2 separate regions of the Homo sapiens genome follow, and region 2 is linked to region 1. Evidence: fine-mapped expression QTL. Tissue or cell type: nasal epithelium. Region 1 holds a variant in brackets; the other region holds the start of a gene. All regions are shown on one strand. Distances are from middle to middle.

Evidence for each region. PIP is the estimated chance that this variant, and not a neighbour inherited with it, causes the effect.
Region 2: RABGAP1L starts here. The variant in region 1 is fine-mapped to the expression of RABGAP1L in nasal epithelium (TOPMed, PIP 0.93).

Annotation. Positions count from the first base shown.
Region 1 is chr1:174,950,839-174,959,103 of GRCh38, forward strand. RABGAP1L (RAB GTPase activating protein 1 like) reads left to right here. Exons shown (of 26, transcript NM_001366446.1): 20 at 6,619-6,711. RABGAP1L-AS1 (RABGAP1L antisense RNA 1) reads right to left here and starts at 3,423. Exons shown (of 6, transcript NR_121196.1): 1 at 3,319-3,423. The variant T/C (reference allele first, on the strand shown) is at 3,371.
Region 2 is chr1:174,154,972-174,162,971 of GRCh38, forward strand. RABGAP1L (RAB GTPase activating protein 1 like) reads left to right here and starts at 4,549. Exons shown (of 26, transcript NM_001366446.1): 1 at 4,549-4,686. It overlaps RABGAP1L-DT (RABGAP1L divergent transcript), which reads right to left and starts at 4,316. Exons shown (of 4, transcript NR_121197.1): 1 at 4,193-4,316; 2 at 3,916-4,019; 3 at 656-726. RefSeq lists silencers at 4,255-4,654, 4,775-4,954.

The DNA of each region.
Region 1 (8,265 bases):
AAATGTTAACTTGGGTCATATCAGCCTTTAAAAAAGAAAAACACAGTGATGTACTTTACCAGTATTTGCATCCATAAATTAATATTTTTGTATCTTTCATTTCTGAATTACAGAAGCAGATTCATCAAACCCTGAATGATAGCTCTTACAAGTGACTGGCCCAATGTTAAAACTGAGCACAGGAGAAATGCTCTGTGTTTTAACTGGGCAAGGAAGCTTGCATAAACCAGTCATCATGAAAATCCTCCTCACTGAGGTGCTTCTCCCTCTCCAACCCTCTGTCCCACAAATTTCTTCTTGATCATCTTTGTACCTTTTATAAATATCTGTTATTGCGCTTATGAAACTAGATGATAACTAGACACATATTTGGCACTACGTCTAGACTGTCAGCTTCTTGAGCAGCTTTACTTTAATCATCTGGTCCCAGGCAGTAGAGCAAAGTGGTTAAAGAGGGCAGGCTCTGGAGGCCAACTGGATTTCATTTCTGTATGATCTTGGGCAAGTTACCTATCCTCAACTTATTTGTAAAATCCAAATAATACTTCCCTCATGGAGTTGCTGGCAGGATTAAATATAGATTTTTCTAAATTAATAGGCTTAAAACTGTTAGGAAATTTTTTGACTTGAAGGAATTACATACTTAGTGGCAATTACTGCTAACCAATAACAAAGCAGAGGGAAGTGGACATCTGAATACATCAATGCAGTGCTAAAAACCTTGCACACTGGTCCAGGCCTCTCTTCTTGTCTTTATTGATAGTTTAGCTCAGAGGCTTTTAGTATGAATCCCACATCTTCTCAAGCATGTACCCCTCAAACCTACCAGCCCCCAACATCCACACCTGGTTTAGAAAGGTTTGTAGGCATCCTGTTTGTCACAGTGACAGGCAGCCGCTACTGACATTTAATAGGTGAAATCATAAATGGGCCCAGGGATGCCATGGGCTCAGAAATGGAGAGCGGAGTCTACACCAAAAATTATTCCACCCAAAATGCCAATAATATCTTACCTTGAGAAACACTGGTAGTGCCCAGGGTCTTTTCTCTACTAAAATGCAAAACCAACTTTTCACAAAATTAATATACTATTTCATAAAGTCAGAATATGCCAAAGATCATGCCATATATATTACAGAGCATAGATCAACTTGAAAAATCTTTACGTATGTATTCTGTTATTTCTCTTTTCTGTGTGTAAGTTCTTTTCAAGTTACTACAGTGAGTTTCAAATTTGTTATTTAAGAGTTCTATTATTCTGTTCATTATGATCCGAAGTTTAAGATCTGCGGTGTTGAAAAGCACTCCTAAATATACAAAGCCCTTGAACTCCTAAATAAACAAAGCCCTTGAACTCCTAAATGTACAAAGATCTTGTTTGGGCCAGGCCTGGTGGCTCACACCTGTAATCCCAGCACTTTGGGAGGCTGAGGTGGGAAGATTGCTTGAGCCTTGGATTTTGAGACCAGCCTGGGCAACATAGTGAGACCCTGGCTCTACCAAAAAAAAAAAAAAAAAAAAAAAAAGCTAGGCATGGTGGTGTGCCCCTATAGTCCCAGCTACTCAGGAAGCTAAGGTGGGAGGATCACCTGAGTCCAGGAATTTGGGGCTGCAGTGTGCTGTGATTGCGCCACTGCACTCCAGCCTGAGCAACAGAACAAGACCCTGTCTCTTAAAAAAAAAAATGATGATTGAGTTTGATAATCAGGAAACTTAACCAAATCTTATATGTAAGCAAATAAATATGTTTTTATTTGTTTGTTTTATTTTGAGACAGGGTCTCACTCTGTCACCTAGGCTGGAGTGCAGTGGCATGATTTTACCTCATTGCAACCCAGCCTCCCAGGCTCAGGTGATCCTCCCACCTCAGCCTCCCAAGTAGCTGGGTCTACAGGCATGTGCCACGATGCTCAGCTAATTTTTGTATGTTTTGTAAACACAGGTTTTCACCATTTTGTCCAGGCTGGTCTTGAACTCCTGAACTCAAGTGATCCACCCACCTTGACTTCCCACAGGGCTGGGATTATAGGCATGAGCCACCACACCTGGCCAAAATAAGTTTTATTAGAAATAACTCACTTTGGGAGGCTGAGGAGGGCAGATCACTTGAGGTTAGGAGTTCAAGAGCAGCCTGGCCAACATGGGGAAACTCCATCTCAAATAAAATACAAAAATTAGCTAGGCATGGGTGGCATGCAAAAAAAAAAAAAAAAAGAACTAATGCATGTGAAATTCAAATATTAGTAAGTATTCAAAATAAGATATGAAAGTAAGAATACAAAATAGGGTGATATCACTGGTTGATATGATTAGTGAGATGAACATTATTAAGGCAAATTCTTCCGATAATTATTGTTATACAACATGATTAATATATATTCAGTCTGAAAGAGTCATATATACAAATATGAAATAAACACCTCAAATGAGAAGAAGAGAGAAAACATGGAGAATGAAGAAAGTTGGGTGTATTCTTTTCAGTCTTCCCCTCCCATATCTCCGTCTGAGGCCAGCATGGCTAATATTGAGAAAGAGTAAGGCAAATGAGTAATTATTGTGCTCTGTCTTTTACTGTTATTGAAGGTCACTGTTTAACACTCCCTCGCCATTCCCCTAACCACTCCCCTTTGCCTTAAATTCATTAAGCTGTATTCTTTGTATTTCCTGATAACAGCTGACAAGGACCCACTCTCATCTGTAATGACAGGTGAGGGTATTGATGATAAGTAGAGTTAATAAAGCTTCTCCAGTGATTTAGAATTATAACGCTCTGAGTATTATCATCAGGGGAATAGATGAAAAAGCCCATTTCATTTTGTGCAGTGTCCTTCAAACTGCTGGTTATGAAATCATTTTAGAGGGTCTGTGAAATCACTGTGGAATACGATGAAACGTAATAGAAAGTATCAGCAGACACTGTGGGAGATCGGTCAGAGCGGTGGGGAAAAACTATAGGGAAAGGACGCAAACCTTCTGAAAGGTCAGAAGGTTCTGCAGAGCCCCAGGGGAGAATAGCTGAAGGCAGCTGTTCTGTAACCCTGAGGCATTGGGCAAGGAGTAGGTACAAGGCAGTGTAGGGGAATTTATCTTAAACAAACTTGTTTACTTATGTTGACCAGGAACTGACCTTTGATCATCCGTGGGGACGGTCCCCCTGAAAGGGGAACAATAAATGTTAATTACCTAAGAGGTTTTTAAATTTCTTTCTCCAGAAAGAAAAATTTCAAGCGTCTGAATCCCATTCAGTATTCTCTAAAATAAAATCAAGTTTGTCCTGAAAGATGGTTTAAAAACTGAAAATCTATTTTCTTTGATTACCTCATAAATAACAAGAGTTTCATATCAGCTCTCCTGTCTCTTCCTCCTCCAC[T/C]CTTTTCCCCTCTTTCACATTGTGCCAATCACACAGGTGGATGCTCAGTATCACCCCACAGCACAAGATAAATAAGCTTGGAAGGTTTCCTAGCAACATATTGTTCTGGGAACCTGCTCTGTTTCCCTGAACAAGATGAAGCCAAATATCCTAGAATCTCAGCCAGATGGGAAAGGATTAGCTTATTGAGAGTGTTATTGCCTTTTTTAAAAAAATGTTTCACTTTGAAATGAACCTCTTAATATAAGTAGCAAAAGTGACTTTTAAAAGGACATGTAAAAATATCCCTTTAAAAGGACATTTTTTTCTCTTACATGTAAAAAAAAATTGATAATAGTTTGAAGTTTAAAAATATGGTTTCAGAATTCTCTAGGCACAAGCTTCCAGTATGTAATTCAGTCACTGGTGAGTGGATCCATTTTAGAACCATGTAGAAAATACTTCCACATGGAACTAATTCTCAGCCTGGTGTCCAGTGGTATGGTATTCCTGCTGTAAAAATACTGAAATACTTCCGATCTGGTGGGAAAATGGCTCCTGGAGTAGGCTCTCTCCTCACAATACCTTTAGCTGCTCCCCTTGGCCCTTGTTTCTGCTCCTAGGGAAACATTGGAGACACCTTGTTACTGCTTAAAACCCTGAAGCTTCCCCTTTTTCTATAGCTCCAGGGCTATTTTAGTGCTAGTGATTTGCAACTTCATCTTCAGAGTCTATTTTTGGTTTTCTCAGTGTATGATTAATGTATATAGAGAAAATAAAAGAAATTGAGACTGCTATCAAAGCCAAGAAAAATAATGTTGTCGTTTTGTTAACACATGATTGTGTATATTTCCCTTGTTTATCTAATGATCTGTGAGGCTACACAGTTGGCAGGTGGTGCTTTCCTTTCTATTGCACTCTAGTTGGTCACAGTATACTTGTTAGAGGTCTCTGGAGATGGAGTAATAAAGGATTCGTGTTTCTCATAACAATATTCAGCAGTGGCTTTGCAATTCAGTTACACCCTGGAAAATGTCCTCACTCCTTGTTTGGCTGGGGAGACATTCCCCCATCAGCCAGATGAATATTCTCATAATGTGGTTGTTGACTGGTTTCTATCATCTATCAGGTTTGGACTGAGTTTGTGAAACTTCCCAATTGTGGTGAGAAGCAGATAATTCTAGTACTTCATAGTGTTCCTGGATAAGAAGAACAAAGTAATTAGAATAAGATGGGGAATGACACCTGGAGTCTTTGTTTTTTATGTAACAAATTATCTGGCCAGATGCCAGAGAATTAGTACTGTCCTCATTTTAATGAAAATAAGGAAATTGTGAGATAATTTTATATTCATGCTAGATGCTTTCCATTCTCTTTTGCTCTCTCACTCATATGTATATGTTTTCTAAATACCATATTTTAAACTCAACAAGGAACAATCTGTTGAGGGCCTAGTATGAGCCAAATACTGCTAGGTATTATGGCAGATACTGAGGGCAACACATCATCCTTGCCTTCTCAGAGTACGCAAGAAGTTTGCAACATAGCACGTTTGTAATCTTAAACCAAACAAAAACATTAAGGAAAGGTGTTGCTGTGTAAAGGAATCATAGGCTAGGCACAGTGGCTCAGGCCTGTAATCCCAATGCTTTGGGAGGCTGAGGAAGGAGGATCGCTTCAGCCCAGGAGTTTGAGACCAGCCTAGGCAACATAGCCAGACCCCATCTCTACAAAAGTTAAAATAAAATAATATAAGTAAGGGAATTCTATAACTTTGATTGTCCAAAGAAAGGCTAAAAGTAGATTTAATATGTATTATGGAACAGAATAAGTTCTAATACGTTAATTTTGATTGAATACTTATTTTAAAAAAAATTTTAAAAATGTCCATAAACCAGGCATTGTTTTAGATACCTCTCTGTTAACTCATTTAATTCTCCTGACACCATTATGAGGTAGAAATTTTGTTTACCTGCTATTTTATAGATGAAGAAACTGAGGCTAAGAGAGTTTTTTTGTTTGTTTGTTTTAAAAGACAGGGTCTCATTCTGTTGCCCAGGCTGGAGTAAGTGGCCGTCATAGTGCACTGCAGCCTGGAACTTGTGCGCTCAAGCAATTCTTCTGTCTCAACCTCCAAGTAGCTGGGACTATAGATGTGCACCACTGTCCCCTAAGAGAGGTTAAATATCTGTTTACTGAGGGCTTTTATACTACGCTGTGCTTATTTGTTTATTTTTAAAATTCTAAGAGTCCATAGGAATCTAGTCTTTTTTCAGAAAATAGTAAACTACTGTCTTTTGTGGATGACATAATTTTAGCAAGAAATAAATGGGTTGTTTAGATGACTTTCTATTATCTCATACAGCATAATGATTCTATATTTGAGTTTTCATTGTCAAACACTAAAACCTCCTTTGTTTTCAGTGTACTAACTCCATTTTAGAATATTTTTCTCTTCTCTTCTTTTTTTTTTTTTTTGAGACTGAGTCTCGCTCTATCACCCAGGCTGGAGTGCAGTGGTACAATCTTGGTTCACCGCAACCTCAGCTTCCCAGGTTCAAGCCAGGCTCATGCCTCAGCCTCCAGAGTAGCTGGGATTACAGATGCCCACCACCATGCCCCGCTAATTTTTGTAATTTTAGTAGAGACCGGGTTTCACCATGTTGGCCAGGCTGGTCTCGAACTCCTGACCTCAAGTGATCCGCCCACCTCAGCCTCCCAAAGTGCTGGGATTACAGGCATGAGCCACCACGCCCAGGCCATTTTAGAATATTTCTTGTAGCTCAATTTTTTACTTATATAAAATAATAATTTTCATTTTCAACATAATAGAAGGATATGAGTGAATTATATTTAAGAAAGTTAAAATTAATAGCACTATTAAATACATTAACAAGAGAAGGTTGTGACATCAGCAATATTATTTATAACAGAGGTGGACAAACTGTAGCCTGTTTCTGTAAATTAAGTTTTCTTGGAACACAGCCAGGCTCATTTGTTTAGGTATCACCCATGGCAGGTTTTGTATAATAATGACAGAGTTGAATCTTTGCAACTTAGACTATATGGCCCACAAGGCCTAAAATATATACTGTCTGGACCTTTACAGGAAAAGTTTGCCAACCTCTACTCTGGAATCTCTATTTTTCTCCTAACTTTGAGTTGAGCATGTTCCCTTAGAATGCCAGAAATTTAACTAGCAAACACACCTGAATTTTTTTTCATAAATGGTGTCCTTGTCTAACATGGTTTTCCTCAAATCCCTGCAGGTACCAACCAAGAAGCTGAAGAAATATGAGAAAGAATATCAGACAATGCGAGAGAGTCAGCTGCAACAGGAAGACCCAATGGATAGATACAAGGTATGAGAAATATGTTGCACCTATCAAAGTACCTTCTTTTTTGTTTTAAATGAGACTGAGTCTTGCCGTGTTGCCCAGGCTGGTCTTGAACACCTGGCCTCAAGCAATCCTCCCACTCCAGTCTCCCAAGTAGCTGGGATTACAGGCACGAGCCACCATTCCCAGCAAAGTACCTTTTTTTTTTTTTTTTTTTTTTTCTTAAAGCAGCAGTTGTGGCAAGTTCAATTCCCTCTGTTCTTCCTTGATTGATTTAGATGCTCTCTGATCATGCTAACTGTCCAGGTATGTTTTCATTTCAGGAGACTCCCAAATAGCCAACCATAATATTTCTTTTCTTTCAGTTTGTATATTTGTAGGTAACTCCAGCTGTTGCATTTATACTGGGAATCTTCATAAGAAGCTGAGAGAAAGAGAGGGGAAAAAGAAAGTGGCTTTCTACTTTCAAAAATGAAACAAAAAGGAAAAATGGCAAAGTACTGTTTTAGCTGTGCATGTCATATCCACAAAGACTTTTAGCAGGTGAACTGTTCCAAGACTGACACAAGGATGTTTCAAACTTGCCTCTGTCTGTAGAAAATGTTAAAAATACCAACTCACTTGGAAGGAAAAATAAAAATCACAAAGGTATATTGAGCACAGTAGTGGTGTTTGTTGCAACATTTATTTCCACAAATGAATTTATGAACAACAGTGATATTTGAGTTAAAGTATGAAGTTTCAGAATCAAAATAATTTCATTTTAATACGTTCGTTAATTGTGAATCTCTTCAATGGTAATTAGCAACACTGTTCCCAGGATGCAAAGTTGGGAAACACTTATTTCCAACTTATTTTTTTCCAAGTAAAATATTATCTCTCTTCAACATGCTTTAACTTTTCAGACTCACACAGATACGTAACAGCTCCTTCTCCCTCCATATCAATACACTAAGATAAAAGAATACTGTATTTTCAGCACTGAGCAGCAGTGCCAAAATCTCCTGCCAAGAAATGGACTGTGTGGCATTATTAATTAAATCACCCACATTGGGATGACTTCCACTTTTGTAACTAGAGTTATCTTTATGTGGTCAGAGCTGGACATAGGCAGCATAGTCACACAGAACATCTTATCTCTGTTGCTGAATTGAATAGCATGGGATGTGTGCAGAGGAACATGGTGGGAGTATGTAGGTTTTGTAGTCAGACAGACCTGAACTCAAATCTTGCTCATTTTTTAGAGCACAGGATTTGGACTCCAAATTGAGGGTTTTAATCCCCATGCCACCATTCAGCATCTTCGACTAGTTATTGAACCTCTTCCTCATCTATAAAAGATATAGTGTTTCTGATTCCTTGATGGATTGTTACAAGGATGAGGGATGCTGTATGTTAAGGACTCAGCTCATAGTTGTGTTCAATAAATGGCTGTTATTTTATGAAGCCTACTACTACAGATTATGCAATTATTACTAGAATAATGCCACCTTATGTGGGTCTTCCCCTCTAGTCCCTTATTGATTGTTCTTATTTCTCTCAAGTATTGCCAACCAATAATCTCCCCTTGCTTATAGA
Region 2 (8,000 bases), 800 kb before region 1:
CAGTGAGCCAAGATCGCACCACTGCACTCCAGCCTGGGTGACAGAGTGAGACCCTGTCTCAAAAAATAAAAAATATAAAAAATAAAAGAAATAAAAGTAGTAGGCTAGCTATTCTTCCTCAAGAGACATTTAGGGCCAGGCGCAGTGGCTCATGCCTTTAATCCCTCCCAGCACTTTGGGAGGCTGAGGCGGGTGGATCACCTGAGGTCAGGAGTTCGAGACCAGACTGGCCAATGTGGCGAAACGCTGTCTCTACTAAAAAAATACAAAAATTAGCTGGGCATGGTGGTGCGTGCCTGTAATCCCAGCTACTCCGGAGGCTAAGGCAGGGGAATTGCTTGAACCCGGGAGGCGGAGGTTGCAGTCAGCCGAGATTGCGCCACTGCACTCCAGCCTGGGCAGCAAGAGTGAAACTCTGTCTCAAAAAAATAAAATAAAACAGGCATTTAGATCTCTGCCTGCCTCTTCTACTGCTGAGGAAATTTTCTGCTCCCTATATACATATTTTATTGTGTTCTTAGTCTTAAATGGGCGATTGCAACACAGGTTTGGTTTATCATATAAGCTCATTATGACTTGTCCAGATTACTCTGAATTTCAGCCCTACATAAAACCGTGAAATAAAAAAGGTTTTCTTCTGTATCTCCAGTTTTACCTGTTACATCTTTCGCTCTCTCGGTGATTTCTCCCTTCCTCCAGTAGCCAGTGCCTCTTTTCCAAATCTTCCTGTTAGTAAAAAAAAAAAAGACTAAAAAATCATGTGATAAACTCATTTATATAAGATTAGTGATTCGAGTCATGAAGTGCTCTTCTTGGGCAAAGTTGATTTAAATAGGGCACAGGATTTAAGTCAAAGTGAAAAAAAAAAAAAGTGTAACGATGGGCTTTCAGGCATCAGGTAGCCCAGTCAGGGAAGGATTTTTTGGTGTGGTCAAATTCCTTTCAAGACCCTGTAAAATCTTGCCAGACAGCTTGTTACCTTTCTATCATTGGAAACGTATCCTTGGAAGAGTCATATAATGCAACTAAAGTTATTTGTTCCATAGTATGCATGGAAAGATTTAGCTTTATCTGTAAGAAATACAAAGCCAAACTCGAACCTTCTTAAAAAGCTGTCAAAATCAGGCCGGGCACGGTGGTTCACGCCTGTAATCCTAGCACTTTGGGAGGCCGAGGCGGGTGGATCACCTGAGGTCAGGAGTTTGAGACCAGCTCGGCCAATATGGTGAAACCCCATCTCTACTAAAAATACAAAAATTAGCTGGGCGTGGTGGTGGGCACCTGTAATCCCAGCTTCTCAGGAGGCTGAGACAGGACAATCGCTTGAACCCGGGAGGCAGGGGTTGTAGTGAACCGAGATTGCGCCACTGCACTCCAGTCTGGGCAACAGAGTGAGACTGTTTAAAAAAAAAAAAAAAAGCTGTGAAAATTTATTGTCTCAGAGGAAGGGGTAGGCTTCAAGCTGGGTTTGAGTGCTTCCATCATGTGTCAGCTTCATCCTCAGGCTGGCTTCCTCATGGTAGCAAAGTGGCTGCAGTAACTATTGGACTCACATCTACCCATCACACTAGCCAGAGTAAGAAAAAGAGCACTTTTCATTTCCCAACAAACACAAGATATGGCCTTCCATGTGACTGGCACCAATTTAGACTCATGTCAGTGCCTATCAGTGAATACTGACAGGTCAAGTGAGAATGGGATTAGGCTGATTATCACAATCACTGTCCACACCTGGAGCGGGAGATGGGCCTAATCAGATCCTTGGCTGTCTTGCAATTGCAGAGGGGTGGAAATATATTCTGGGGAATCAATCAATATAATGCTCACTATAAAATCAATATGATATTCTGTACCATTAGATACCAGTTTAAACTCTTACATTATTGTTCAATGTTTAACTTGTTTCTAATTTTTTTTTTCTTTTTTGTGGAGACAGGGTATTGTTATGTTGCCCAGGCTAATCTTGAACTTCTGGGCTCAAGCAATTCTGCCTTGGCCTCTCAAAGTGCTGGGATTACAGGCATGAACCACTGCACCTGGTCTGTTTCCAATTTTTGATATTACATTTTAAACTAGGAGTTGCAGACATAAATGAGAGAAACAACACTGTAAGATACAATAGAGAATGTAGAGACTTTGGCAAAAGAGAGAATGCATGTCCTGCAGCTGATCGTTATCATGTAATAATGTAAGCTCACTGTTACCAAATCTTCCACTTTTTAAAGAGAAGCCCAAAATGCATGTATAATCTTCTGGTTTTTAACTTTGGATATGTGTTTTTTTAAGCACCATGTATGCCAAACAAAACATGTTTGTGGGTTTGATTTGTACCTGGGGCACCAGTTTGTCATGTTATGAATCATGCTGGAGTATTTTATAACACCATCTCTCAAAGTGAGAGTTTCAGTCCTTTCATGGACCAGGGCTGCTAGGATACGCTTAATGCAAATGAAGCCACAGTGGAAAGAGAAGTGAGCAGCACATACCACATGAAGAATGCTTTGTTATTAATTTTTTATTCCTTTTAGTTTCTCGACTAAAAGCCTGAAGATCTGTTAATAATTTTTTGGCATGTGCTTAGAATTGTTTTTCTGGTGGTAAGGATGAGTTTGCATCAGATCACCTTAATTGTCTTTTATCTAGGTTCTCTCATGACTTGTCTCTTATCTATGTTGTACTGTGAGGAAAAGTTCAGTTTTAAAGAATGACCCCTGTTGATGAGAGGTGTTACATGTGGCCATGGGACAGGATTTTTCTTTTCCTTATAGCAAGTTGGCACATGAAGATAGCATGCTCCACTTAAATAGAAGAATTAACTCGCAGTGGCCAGTGGTGTCCACTATTGCTTTCAAAGACATATGGAACTGAATTTGGGGAACACTAAACTTGTTTTGGACTTGCCATTTTTTTTTTAAATTCTTTTTTAGCTAAGTTACCTATTGAATGCCCATAATTACCACATCCATTGTCCTTTTTTGTCAAAAAGCTTCACTCCAGTTAGAAGATACCTGAAGGCAGAAACTGCGGCTTTGTCAACTGTTGATTTCCTCATGGCGCGCAGTGTAAATTTACTAGTACTTTATTTAGTAGAGGCTTAGTACTTACTGGTTGGCAGATTTATTAATAGTTCCTGTACATCTCAGGAAATCAACAGATGATTTATGTTATTCTAACCCTAACTTTATTAAATATAATAAAAACTTTCAGCATTTATTGTCAGGCCCAGGGCTAGGTAGGCTCCTGAGATACAGAAGTTAATAAGGGAAGCAGCCCAGAAGGTAGGGGAAACAAAAAAATAGTTACAACACTCTTGATATGTCTCAGCATCTATAGACATTAACATCAGGAAAAGCGGGGGTGTGGGGGGAAGGAATTTGTCAGGGAGGGCCCTTTGGACAAATGTCACGTTTCTCAGAGTAGCTTTTAAATATGGGTGGGAAAATGAGGGCAGGGGAATTGAAGTGGGATAGAAGGGAGATATTTAAACTAAAGTCATTCTATGGCTGCAATCACTGGACACTATATTCACTTATCCATGCAATCACATTCATTGAGTGCTTCCTATGAGTTAGGCAGGGTGCACAGTGTAAGATACAAATGAATGATACAGGTTCACAGCGGTTGTCTAGTGGGATAAAATGCTGCACAGGGCAACCTGGATAAGCCTGACATGTTAGGTGCCACAAAACTACAGAACAAAGTGCTAAGGAGATTCGGAAAATTTACAGGTCATTTCTGGTTGCAGGATCTAGAAGAAGGATGTCCACAATTCAAGGATCAGTACAATCTTCGTAGCGAAAAAGCGTTGGTTTATTCTACCTCTACCTAGTTTGTACCTCAACATCTTTTACCCCAAAGGATAAAAAGGTGCAAATGAGGGCACATTTTCTTCATATAATACGTAATGGTGCTTACTTATTGCTTTCCTGTTCATTCCCCGCAGGTGATTTCCCTCTTCAGTCTCCCCCGAGTCTCACAGAAGGAACTAACAAGGGAGCGCTTCACAAGCACACAGACACCTTCAAACAGGCGCAGAAGAGTACTTGGTGAAAAAGTATTCTTTCAGGTGACTTTCCTTAAGATTACTGAGCATTAAGAATGAAAATATGTAAACCAGGTTTACGAGCAAGAAAATAATCTCTCCACATTCAGAGTTAATCTTCCGAACTCAGCAACTGCCAGTAGAACGCACCCCGGTCAGGGCGGGCTCGCGGGCGCGGTCCCACCCCCAGGCCCCTCCGCCGCGGAGGTTCTCCAGCGCCGCCCGTACTCCCGCCTTTCGCGCGTCCCTGCTCTAACAGCTCTGGTTCTGTCAGGACCTCACTCCTCCGCTCCCGGCGCAACCGCGGCCACGCAGCGACGTGCACGCGCGTGTGCGCCGCCGCCGCCCGGCAGAGTGGGCGCCTCCGACATCAGGAGCGCGCACGCCGCGCAGAGGGGCCTGGACGAGCGCGCTTCCGACCCGCCGCCACCGCCTCCTCCCCTCCTTCTCGGCCCGCCCCCTCCCTCGCCTCTTCCTGCCAGGCGGCCCTTCTCCCCTCCCCTCTCAGTTCCCTCCGCCCTCCTCGGGCTCCAGCGGTGGCGGAGCGAACGGGACCGGCCCGGCTTCAGAGCGCGAGGTGGAGGGTGGAACGCGGGCGCCTGAAGGAGTTGTTGTCTCGGCAGCGCCCGCGGAGACGTGAAGAGGTGAGGCGAGGACGGCCTCCTAGGGACACGAGGGCGGCCCGGCGGCCCGGATCCGCGGGCCGAGGCTGCCTGGGTGTGTTGGCGTCGGGCTGAGCCTGGGGAGGGTCGAGATGGGGCCCCAGCCGAGGACTGGGATGCGGGAGGACCGCGGTAAGGAGGGTAGGGGGCGGGTTCAGGACTGTCGGCCGCCTCCCGGACACCGCAGTTCTCCCAGGTGGCCGCTCCTCGCGGATAGGGCGGGCGGGGTCGGCGCCCTTACCTGGGGGTGGGGTAGTGGCTTTGGCGGCCGCCTCCTCCAGCTGTGCCCTCCTGACATTGCTGCCTCGGCGGCTGCCGCCCGCTGCTACGCTGTGGCTGCTGCTGGATTCGCAGTCCCAGCCGCCCTGCGTCCGGTGGGCGAGTGGTTAGGGTATTTTCTTACCCACACGCAGGCTTCTGTACTCGACCATTTCTCTCCCTCGCCCTTCCTCTTCCTCCGCCGAGCACTTTGCTCGGCTCCTGCTGTTGATGCTTGTGGTTTTGCAGTTTGGGATGGGATGCGTTCCGGGCAGATCCCTACCTGTAGGGAATGCCCCGCTTCAAAGTTGACCTCCTGAGCCATGACAAACACCTCCCCCCAACCCCCACCCACCTTGTGAGTGCTCAGTGTCCTGATAACTGAGTCAAAGTTTCTGAGACTGGGCTAGTACTTTGCACTGGTCGCCAACGGTACAGGGCTGGGCAGTGCGTCAGCATGTGGAAAGGGGCCACCGGCTAGCGGGAGGTGGCCGGGTGCATGGGAGCTGAACTGACGGGTTTCAGATACTAGGCAGTGTGTCCAGGTCCTTGGATCTCTCAGATAGGGTTATATTAGAATATGTACCAAAACTTGGGTGGTCACTTGCAAAATTGGTTTCATGCAAGTAAACTGAAATGCCAGCCTTATTACACTAATGGTAAGGAGAACTTTTGCTTGCCTGACAGATTTCAGCGCAGTTTGGAAAATGATTTTAAGGCCTTTATTTTTGGCACTGGAGGGGTTTAGGGATTTTTAATACATTTAAATTTCCTCGTGCATAGTGGGAGGTAAGTAGTTGCTTGTTAAAATTCTGAAAACACAGTTTCATGAAAACCTTCTGACTTTTCTTACAGTAGTGTTTATATTTGGCATCTTCCGTAGAATATCCATTAGTTATGATGTCAGAAGATACGGATGTGAAGTTTGCTTTTTGTGATCACATTGGAAGTGGATTTTGTTCATGGAAAATACTGGTTCACAAGCTCCTAGTACTAGAAAACTGGCCTGTGATTCATTTTCTCAGTAGAGCGTCCCTTATGAAATTGACAATGAGATTTCTAAGGAGAAAGACTAGTTGAACTTTATGTATACATTATCATCAAATTGTATTAAATGTACACCTGCCTGAGGGGTTAGCTCTAGACTTTGAGTTAGACTGGTGTCTATACTAAATCAGTTCAATAAATGCGCTGATATTATGTATTATTCATTTGGAGAGAAGTAGATAAAGCAGGGCAGAGTTTATATTTTAACATATTATGTAGCCTACATTTGCTCTGATGTGTATTATTATTATTATTATTATTATTATTATTATTATTTTTGAGACGAAGTTTCGCTCTTGATGCCCAGGCTGGAGTGCAACAGCGCGATCTCGGCTCACCACAACCTCCGCCTCCCGGGTTCAAGCGATTCTCCTGCCTCAGCTTTTTGTGTAGCTGGGACTACAGGCATGCGCCGCCACGCCTGGCTAATTTTGTATTTTTAGTACAGACTGGGTTTCTCCATGTTGGTCAGGCTGGTGGAACTGCTGACCTCAGGTGATCTGCCCGCCTCAGCCTCCCAAAGTGCTGGGATTACAGGCGTTAGCCACAGCGCCCGGCCTCTGATGTGTACTAGTAAGTCATATGGGGAGAAGTAGATGAAATAGGGTAGAGCTTATATGTGAACATATTATATAACCTACATTGTCCTCTAGAAAGCTGGAAACAAGTTAGTAAGTCTCAGTACTATTGGGGCATATGGTGAATATACAAACCAACCTAAAAAAGTGTGACTGTAAATAGATGAAGTTTGTTTGTTTCTTTTAAAGAGACAAGGTCTCGCTCTGGCGCCCAGGCTGGAGTGCAGTGGCTCAGTCCTAGCTCACTGCAGCCACGAAGTTCTGGTCTCAAGAGATCCTCCCACCTCAGCCTCCTGAGTAGCTGGGACCACAGGCACATGCCACCAAACCTGGCTAATTTTTTGTTTTATTTTTGTAGAGTCAAGGGTCTCACCATGTTGCTCAGGCTAGTCTCCAACTCCTGGCCTCAGGCAGTCCTTGCGCCTCAGCCTCTCGAAGTGCTGGGATTACAGGCCTGAGCCAACGGTGCTTGTCCCATTTTTTTTTTTTTTCACCTGAGTTATTTGATGGGAATTTCTATATATTACAGTTGCGATGTTCTGAGAATTTTTGTTTCTTTGATAATTGTTTCATGATTTAGATGTTTTCTTTTTACGCTGGTAGTTATGATTTTTTTTTCCTTTGAATGAAAGAATTTTATTAGGCATGTGAAACAGGAGTTTTCATGTGATCAGCTCTCCAGTTCTAAATTTGTGACTTTTAAAAAACTTGAATTTTTTTCTTTGCCTTAACCCAAACTTGAATTTGCTCAGCCATTGTATATTTATTTGAACTCTCAGATGATACAGCATTGAAGCAGAAAGTCCTTTTATCCATGCTTTTGGAGTAATCAAAAGAAGGAATTCTGTTGTGCCAAGTAAAAATATGTGTGGGAGATAGCTAGGCTTCAAGAGATTGACTTTGAAGAGAGTAGTGGCTAAGTAGCAAAAATTTCCTATATTGAAGGTGTAGAAGTGGGCCTGCATTCCAACCTACCATTGTCTTCAAGTGGGGTATGGATCATTATGACTGGTTAGAGGGGGTTTGGAGAATGAAGTTGTTGCTGTAAGCCTATGGGATTCCCAGGCACAGAGCTTGCTTATGTCTTAATTTTAATGAGTTCTATATTTTTATAACTCTTGACTTATATAAATGGGTCAGCCGTTGAGTCTGAGGATGACCAGCAGCCCAAGGCTATTCCAGGTGCTGGTATTTCTTTTTTTTTTTTTTTCTCTTTCTGTTTTTTTTTTTTTTTTTTTTTTTTTTAATTATACTTTAAGTTTTAGGGTACATGTGCACATTGTGCAGGTTAGTTACATATGTATACATGTGCCATGCTGGGAATTGAACAATGAGATCACATGGACACAGGAAGGGGAATATCACACTCTGGGGACTGTGGTGGGGAGGGGGGAGGGGGGAGGGATAGCATTG